2 linked regions of the Homo sapiens genome follow. The protein of the gene in region 1 purifies or fractionates together with the protein of each later gene. This does not show direct contact. Each region holds a gene or a part of one and is shown on either strand. Other genes may lie near its edges.

Evidence for each region.
Region 2: the proteins of PROC (region 1) and MMP15 purify together in Homo sapiens (co-immunoprecipitation; one study listed by IntAct). This does not show direct contact.

The regions. Positions count from the first base shown.
Region 1 is NC_000002.12:127,416,779-127,421,226, forward strand, and holds the start of PROC (vitamin K-dependent protein C isoform 10 preproprotein), read left to right. Parts: upstream 1-1,648; 5' UTR 1,649-1,668; coding exon of another isoform or gene 1,669-1,734; intron 1,735-2,918; exon of another isoform or gene 2,919-3,027; coding exon of another isoform or gene 3,028-3,164; coding exon 3,165-3,234; intron 3,235-4,448. UniProt on the Homo sapiens protein: Protein C is a vitamin K-dependent serine protease that regulates blood coagulation by inactivating factors Va and VIIIa in the presence of calcium ions and phospholipids. Exerts a protective effect on the endothelial cell barrier function.
Region 2 is NC_000016.10:58,024,561-58,028,553, forward strand, and holds the start of MMP15 (matrix metalloproteinase-15 preproprotein), read left to right. Parts: upstream 1-1,193; 5' UTR 1,194-1,790; coding exon 1,791-1,952; intron 1,953-3,993. UniProt on the Homo sapiens protein: Endopeptidase that degrades various components of the extracellular matrix. May activate progelatinase A.

The sequences.
Region 1 (4,448 bases):
CACCTCCACCCCTCCTAGCACCTCCTGACTGCTTGTGTTCTGTGTCTCCCCACTGTCTCCCAACCTGGGGTGGGGTTGGGGGGGATGTCTTTCCTCCTGTCTGCTCTTTGATGTCCAGCTGAAGTGTCACCTCCTACAGGCAGCCTCCCCTGGCTATGCCAGCTTGTACTGATTGCCCTCTCCTCTGAATTCTGTAAGCATTTCCTATGTGTACCTGCCCCTGGGCAAGGTGGGCCTGACTTGTTAGAGTGTTAGAGTTTTACCCTGTTCCTCTAGGAGGGCCTGGTACCACCACAGCCCAGCATGGTGTGGTGCCTCAGCAGGAGGCATCTGGTTACAATCAACACAAGCTGTTCCAGCCAATTTAAAGAAACTTCAGGAGGAATAGGGTTTTAGGAGGGCATGGGGACCCTCCTGCACCCGAAGCCAGGATGTGCCACCAATCATAAGGAGGCAGGGGCCTCCTTCCGCTGCTCCCTGGGACTCTCTAGGTGTCCGTGGCCTCAGTCCCCCTCTGCACACCTGCATCTTCCTTCTCATCAGCTTCCTCTGCTTTAAGCGTAAACATGGATGCCCAGGACCTGGCCTCAATCTTCCGAGTCTGGTACTTATGGTGTACTGACAGTGTGAGACCCTACTCCTCTGATCAATCCCCTGGGTTGGTGACTTCCCTGTGCAATCAATGGAAGCCAGCGAGGCAGGGTCACATGCCCCGTTTAGAGGTGCAGACTTGGAGAAGGAACGTGGGCAAGTCTTCCCAGGAACAGGTAGGGCAGGGAGGAAAGGGGGGCATCTCTGGTGCAGCCCGGTTCGGAGCAGGAAGACGCTTAATAAATGCTGATAGACTGCAGGACACAGGCAAAGGTGCTGAGCTGGACCCTTTATTTCTGCCCTTCTCCCTTCTGGCACCCCGGCCAGGAAATTGCTGCAGCCTTTCTGGAATCCCGTTCATTTTTCTTACTGGTCCACAAAAGGGGCCAAATGGAAGCAGCAAGACCTGAGTTCAAATTAAATCTGCCAACTACCAGCTCAGTGAATCTGGGCGAGTAACACAAAACTTGAGTGTCCTTACCTGAAAAATAGAGGTTAGAGGGATGCTATGTGCCATTGTGTGTGTGTGTTGGGGGTGGGGATTGGGGGTGATTTGTGAGCAATTGGAGGTGAGGGTGGAGCCCAGTGCCCAGCACCTATGCACTGGGGACCCAAAAAGGAGCATCTTCTCATGATTTTATGTATCAGAAATTGGGATGGCATGTCATTGGGACAGCGTCTTTTTTCTTGTATGGTGGCACATAAATACATGTGTCTTATAATTAATGGTATTTTAGATTTGACGAAATATGGAATATTACCTGTTGTGCTGATCTTGGGCAAACTATAATATCTCTGGGCAAAAATGTCCCCATCTGAAAAACAGGGACAACGTTCCTCCCTCAGCCAGCCACTATGGGGCTAAAATGAGACCACATCTGTCAAGGGTTTTGCCCTCACCTCCCTCCCTGCTGGACGGCATCCTTGGTGGGCAGAGGTGGGCTTCGGGCAGAACAAGCCGTGCTGAGCTAGGACCAGGAGTGCTAGTGCCACTGTTTGTCTATGGAGAGGGAGGCCTCAGTGCTGAGGGCCAAGCAAATATTTGTGGTTATGGATTAACTCGAACTCCAGGCTGTCATGGCGGCAGGACGGCGAACTTGCAGTATCTCCACGACCCGCCCCTGTGAGTCCCCCTCCAGGCAGGTCTATGAGGGGTGTGGAGGGAGGGCTGCCCCCGGGAGAAGAGAGCTAGGTGGTGATGAGGGCTGAATCCTCCAGCCAGGGTGCTCAACAAGCCTGAGCTTGGGGTGAAAGGACACAAGGCCCTCCACAGGCCAGGCCTGGCAGCCACAGTCTCAGGTCCCTTTGCCATGCGCCTCCCTCTTTCCAGGCCAAGGGTCCCCAGGGCCCAGGGCCATTCCAACAGACAGTTTGGAGCCCAGGACCCTCCATTCTCCCCACCCCACTTCCACCTTTGGGGGTGTCGGATTTGAACAAATCTCAGAAGTGGCCTCAGAGGGAGTCGGCAAGAATGGAGAGCAGGGTCCGGTAGGGTGTGCAGAGGGCCACGTGGCCTATCCACTGGGGAGGGTTCCTTGATCTCTGGCCACCAGGGCTATCTCTGTGGCCTTTTGGAGCACCTGGTGGTTTGGGGCAGGGGTTGAATTTCCAGGCCTAAAACCACACAGGCCTGGCCTTGAGTCCTGGCTCTGCGAGTAATGCATGGATGTAAACATGGAGACCCAGGACCTTGCCTCAGTCTTCCGAGTCTGGTGCCTGCAGTGTACTGATGGTGTGAGACCCTACTCCTGGAGGATGGGGGACAGAATCTGATCGATCCCCTGGGTTGGTGACTTCCCTGTGCAATCAACGGAGACCAGCAAGGGTTGGATTTTTAATAAACCACTTAACTCCTCCGAGTCTCAGTTTCCCCCTCTATGAAATGGGGTTGACAGCATTAATAACTACCTCTTGGGTGGTTGTGAGCCTTAACTGAAGTCATAATATCTCATGTTTACTGAGCATGAGCTATGTGCAAAGCCTGTTTTGAGAGCTTTATGTGGACTAACTCCTTTAATTCTCACAACACCCTTTAAGGCACAGATACACCACGTTATTCCATCCATTTTACAAATGAGGAAACTGAGGCATGGAGCAGTTAAGCATCTTGCCCAACATTGCCCTCCAGTAAGTGCTGGAGCTGGAATTTGCACCGTGCAGTCTGGCTTCATGGCCTGCCCTGTGAATCCTGTAAAAATTGTTTGAAAGACACCATGAGTGTCCAATCAACGTTAGCTAATATTCTCAGCCCAGTCATCAGACCGGCAGAGGCAGCCACCCCACTGTCCCCAGGGAGGACACAAACATCCTGGCACCCTCTCCACTGCATTCTGGAGCTGCTTTCTAGGCAGGCAGTGTGAGCTCAGCCCCACGTAGAGCGGGCAGCCGAGGCCTTCTGAGGCTATGTCTCTAGCGAACAAGGACCCTCAATCCCAGCTTCCGCCCTGACGGCCAGCACACAGGGACAGCCCTTTCATTCCGCTTCCACCTGGGGGTGCAGGCAGAGCAGCAGCGGGGGTAGGCACTGCCCGGAGCTCAGAAGTCCTCCTCAGACAGGTGCCAGTGCCTCCAGAATGTGGCAGCTCACAAGCCTCCTGCTGTTCGTGGCCACCTGGGGAATTTCCGGCACACCAGCTCCTCTTGGTAAGGCCACCCCACCCCTACCCCGGGACCCTTGTGGCCTCTACAAGGCCCTGGTGGGCATCTGCCCAGGCCTTCACAGCTTCCACCATCTCTCTGAGCCCTGGGTGAGGTGAGGGGCAGATGGGAATGGCAGGAATCAACTGACAAGTCCCAGGTAGGCCAGCTGCCAGAGTGCCACACAGGGGCTGCCAGGGCAGGCATGCGTGATGGCAGGGAGCCCCGCGATGACCTCCTAAAGCTCCCTCCTCCACACGGGGATGGTCACAGAGTCCCCTGGGCCTTCCCTCTCCACCCACTCACTCCCTCAACTGTGAAGACCCCAGGCCCAGGCTACCGTCCACACTATCCAGCACAGCCTCCCCTACTCAAATGCACACTGGCCTCATGGCTGCCCTGCCCCAACCCCTTTCCTGGTCTCCACAGCCAACGGGAGGAGGCCATGATTCTTGGGGAGGTCCGCAGGACACATGGGCCCCTAAAGCCACACCAGGCTGTTGGTTTCATTTGTGCCTTTATAGAGCTGTTTATCTGCTTGGGACCTGCACCTCCACCCTTTCCCAAGGTGCCCTCAGCTCAGGCATACCCTCCTCTAGGATGCCTTTTCCCCCATCCCTTCTTGCTCACACCCCCAACTTGATCTCTCCCTCCTAACTGTGCCCTGCACCCAAGACAGACACTTCACAGAGCCCAGGAGACACCTGGGGACCCTTCCTGGGTGATAGGTCTGTCTATCCTCCAGGTGTCCCTGCCCAAGGGGAGAAGCATGGGGAATACTTGGTTGGGGGAGGAGAGGAAGACTGGGGGGATGTGTCAAGATGGGGCTGCACGTGGTGTACTGGCAGAAGAGTGAGAGGATTTAACTTGGCAGCCTTTACAGCAGCAGCCAGGGCTTGAGTACTTATCTCTGGGCCAGGGACTGTATTGGATGTTTTACATGACGGTCTCATCCCCATGTTTTTGGATGAGTAAATTGAACCTTAGAAAGGTAAAGACACTGGCTCAAGGTCACACAGAGATCGGGGTGGGGTTCACAGGGAGGCCTGTCCATCTCAGAGCAAGGCTTCGTCCTCCAACTGCCATCTGCTTCCTGGGGAGGAAAAGAGCAGAGGACCCCTGCGCCAAGCCATGACCTAGAATTAGAATGAGTCTTGAGGGGGCGGAGACAAGACCTTCCCAGGCTCTCCCAGCTCTGCTTCCTCAGACCCCCTCATGGC
Region 2 (3,993 bases), on another chromosome or scaffold:
TTCTCTAAACTCCGACTTCCTTTCCCCAAGGACATCCCAGGAGGGTTCAAACGCGCCCTCTCTAAGGCACTCTGCCAGGTCTCCTGATTTCCAGTTTCCGGGAGGTGAGGCCGGCTAGGGTGCCCCGAGGGCCTGCTCTAGAGAAAACCGCCCTCAGGTGAGGACGGCTTCCATTTCCGGGTCTGAAGATAAGGAACAGCTTATCTTCGGTCTCCGCCCTCCTGCCTGCAACCCTCACCCACTGACCACGCCGGCCAGTCCGCCGCGCCAGGGCTGCCCTTGGCCTGGTCCCCGGGTCTCGGTGGACCTTCGACCCGGGCCTCCCAGCTCTGGCCTCCTGCATCCACCCCGCCCCGACCTCAAGCTGCTTCCGGAATAGAATGAAATCCAGCTCGTTAAGCTTCGCGGGGAGGTGTGTCCACCCGCCCCGCGCCGACTCCGGCCGCACTGTCGCACTTCACTCGCACCAGCCAGTGGCCAAAGTGCTTGGGCACCTATTGCGCCAGGCCAGGAGCCGGAAGTCTTACCTCGCCCTCACCCCAACTCTTTGCCCCACGTTCCCGATAAGAACATGGAGGCTCGGAGAGATTAATTTGCCCACGTGCAAGCGGCAGCTAAGGGGCGGACGCGGAACTTGAACCGTGTCCCTCCTAAACCTGCCCCTTGTCCGCCGCAACGCGCCCTCGACGCGCACAAAACCCTCACTTTGCTACTGAGGAAAGTTATTCAATGGCCAGAGACACCCTGCGGCTTTTGAAAAGAGGTTTCAGGCTGACAAATATCCATATATACATATATATTTATATTTAAGCCTAAAACGACTCTTTGATCCCTCCCCTAAGACCTCCTTCCCGTCCGCCTAGGCCTCGGTATCCCCCACCAGGTATGAGAAGGAGGAGTCTTCATTCTTCCCAGGCGGGGAGACCACGCCTTCCCTGCCTCCTCCCTCCGCGGGGGGTCGCGTTGGAGGTCACCCCCGCCCCCTAGGCGCTGGGTTGGGAGTGACGCGGGGTGGGCTGGAGAGGTTTCCTGCCGTCTGGGAAGCGTAAACGGACCGCCCACCTGTCGGGCCTCGGCCGCCCGCACCTGCTTGTGAGAAGCCTGCGGCTGGGGCACCGCCCCCGGTCCCCGCCCGGGTCCGCGCATTGGGAGCACACTGGCCCTTTAAGAGCGCGGCGGCCGCGGCGCGCGGGGAGGAGGGCTGGGAGCGCCCGGAGCCGCGCTGAACTCGCCGGGGACGTCGGGCGCCCGCTCCTTGGCTGGCTCGCTTGCTCTCTCGCTCGCTCTCTCGGGTCGGCTCCCTGCGCCTCCTCCCGGGACTGCTTGGGGACCCGGGCCCGGTCGGGCGCGGCGGCGAGCAGAATCCCCGTGCAGGAGGCGCGCGCTCCGGGCAGCGCCCGGCCCCGGGCATGGACAGAGGGAGCTGGGCGCGCAGGGAGCGCCGCGGGACCGGGCGGCCGGAGCGCTGAGCCAGACAAAGGCTCCGGAGTTGCGCTTGCTCTCGGGAGCCGGGCCCCAGGCGCTGGGCGCCGAGGCTGCGGAACCTCGCCGGGGGCAGCTCCGGTCGGCCCCCTTTCCCGCCGGCTGGTTCCGAGCTCCCGGACCTGCCCTGCCCGCTTCTCCTCGGGCTTGGGAATTTGCCGAGGCGACCTAGGCGGCTCCGGCGGGGACCGGGAGCCCGAGGTCCGCGGCGCGCCTGCCGGGCCAGGAGCCAGGGAGCGTCGCAAGTTTCCAAGGCGCGTGCGAGGATCCGGCGTGCAGTGTTCCGAGCTGGGCTGGGCGCCGAGAGCATGGGCAGCGACCCGAGCGCGCCCGGACGGCCGGGCTGGACGGGCAGCCTCCTCGGCGACCGGGAGGAGGCGGCGCGGCCGCGACTGCTGCCGCTGCTCCTGGTGCTTCTGGGCTGCCTGGGCCTTGGCGTAGCGGCCGAAGACGCGGAGGTCCATGCCGAGGTAAGACCCCCGCCCTGCCCTTTGGCTGCGGGCTGGGGGCTTGGAGGGAGAGGCGCCACGTCCGCAGGCTGGGACTTGGAGGTGGAGGGAGCGGAGACGCGCCCCCTGTTCTGGGCCGTGGCGGGGAAGCAAGCGGACTTGGCAGTCTGCCCCTCCCCAGCTCGCCCTCTGCAGCGCACCTCTTCGCAAACCCTTGAGGGCGCAGGGCCTCGCTCTCCTCCCCGCTACTCCTACAGCCCTGTTCTGGGCACTGAGCCCCCACCCCGACCCCCTTACATTCAGCCTGTGTCCCGGGAGCCGCTTCCGCCGCCCCCAGCCCTTGCCTCCCCTCCTTCCTTCCCTCCAGGGCAGCCGATTCCTCGAGAGCCCGGCTGGCGCGCAGTGGCGCTCTTTGCGAGTGGGGAGGGGGCTGCTCTCGGGGACAGCCACAGGCGGAGCAAGAGCTGGGCGGCTGGGCAACTGCGCTCCTGCCCAGGTGGCCTCCCGTCTGGGTGATACCGAGCCGCGCACGGCGGGCCAGGATGGAGGCGGGGGGATGGGTGCAAACGGCTGAGGCAGCGGACTCGGGTTGCGGGGGCGCTTTGGCGACTTTCTGCGCTTTTGCGAGGAAGCCTAGGCACGCCCGGGCGGGGTCCTAAGGACGGACCCTGCCTCCCACAGCGCTTCCTCCCAACAGCGCCCCTACGTCGAAGCCCTGGATTCGAGAGGGTGGACCCCGCGCCTCTCTTCGCTAGGAGCCCGCTTGGCGTCCCTCCCGGGGCCCCGCTCTGGATGGGTCCCGCGGGTGACCAGGCGCGACATCCCGGCGTAGAGCCGAGTCCAGCCAGCGCCCCAGCTCCATGGTGTCTCCCGAGCGAGGACACCGAAGGCGCCAGCTTTCTTGCCCCAGAGCAAGAGCAGGGTCCACTCTTCCCCGACTTCTAAGACCTGCGCCCTGCCCCAGATAGGCGGGGAGAGGACTTGGGCGGGGAGTAGGGAGAAAGAACCACCCCGGAGCCGCTTCTGAACGGTGCTCAGGCCTTGGTGCCCTTGGGCTGCCCGGGCTGCGGGCCTGAGCGCCGTTTCTATTTGCAGCTCAGCTGGTGCTCCCTCCCTGGCCCACGGCGGCTTTCCCACCTCTCCGGGCTGCCTGGGAGATTTTTCCGATGGAAGCTTGCCCTTCCCCGCCCTACTTTAATAAAAGCATAGAGGAAGGGCAGGGAATTCCTCCTGGGCTCGAGTTACACCTCCCAGCCATTTCCCCACCTGCTCTGCCCTCCCTCCCTGGCCTGGCCAGGGAGAGCTGAAGGAGGAGCCAGGCCCTGGTGGGAGGCAGGATAGGAGCCCCGCCCCGACCCAGTCTGGCCACCCTCCCCCACCCCATTCACACAGGCAGGAGGAGCTTTAGGGGGCTCCTGTTGGTGAGGATTACCCCTCAGCCTGTGACCCAAGTACTGGGCGGAGAGTGCCATTTGGGCCCACCTGCCACTCTGGGCTGGAGTGCCAAAGAATTTCAAGTCACAGTCCCACCATTGAGTTTCTAATCTACTTAGGGATGGCGTCAATACATAGGAAGCAGTGATGGAATTCAATGGCCGTGCATTGCTAATGGCATCCTAGCTGGCCAGGAGCTCAGGGGTGCAGGGACCTGTAGTTGGAGGGGCTTCACTCTCTCTCTCTTCTGCTTTTCCAGTTCCATCTCACCCCTACCCCAACTCCCCAGCTCAGGGAGTGCCCACAGCTCGATGCCGCCAGGGAAGAAGCCATGGTTGCGTTATCACAAACCGTGCTCCTGATCTGGAGGTTGTGACTGTCCTGGAGCCCTACTCCTGGGGAAACACTTGGGTTGGACCTGGGCAGTGACTGGAAGAGACCCCGGAAGGTTTAAGGAGCCTTGAATGTTGGCAGCCATGCAGATAGAGGGCTAGAGACAGGTGGAGTGTCCCAGCTCCTACAGTTGGCTTTGGGTACAGGCTGCTTCTAGGGTCCCATCAGGTCTGGCCACATGTGGGCCCAAAGAGTCAAATGGCCTCAGCAGCCAGCCCATCTGCCGGGGGCTGTG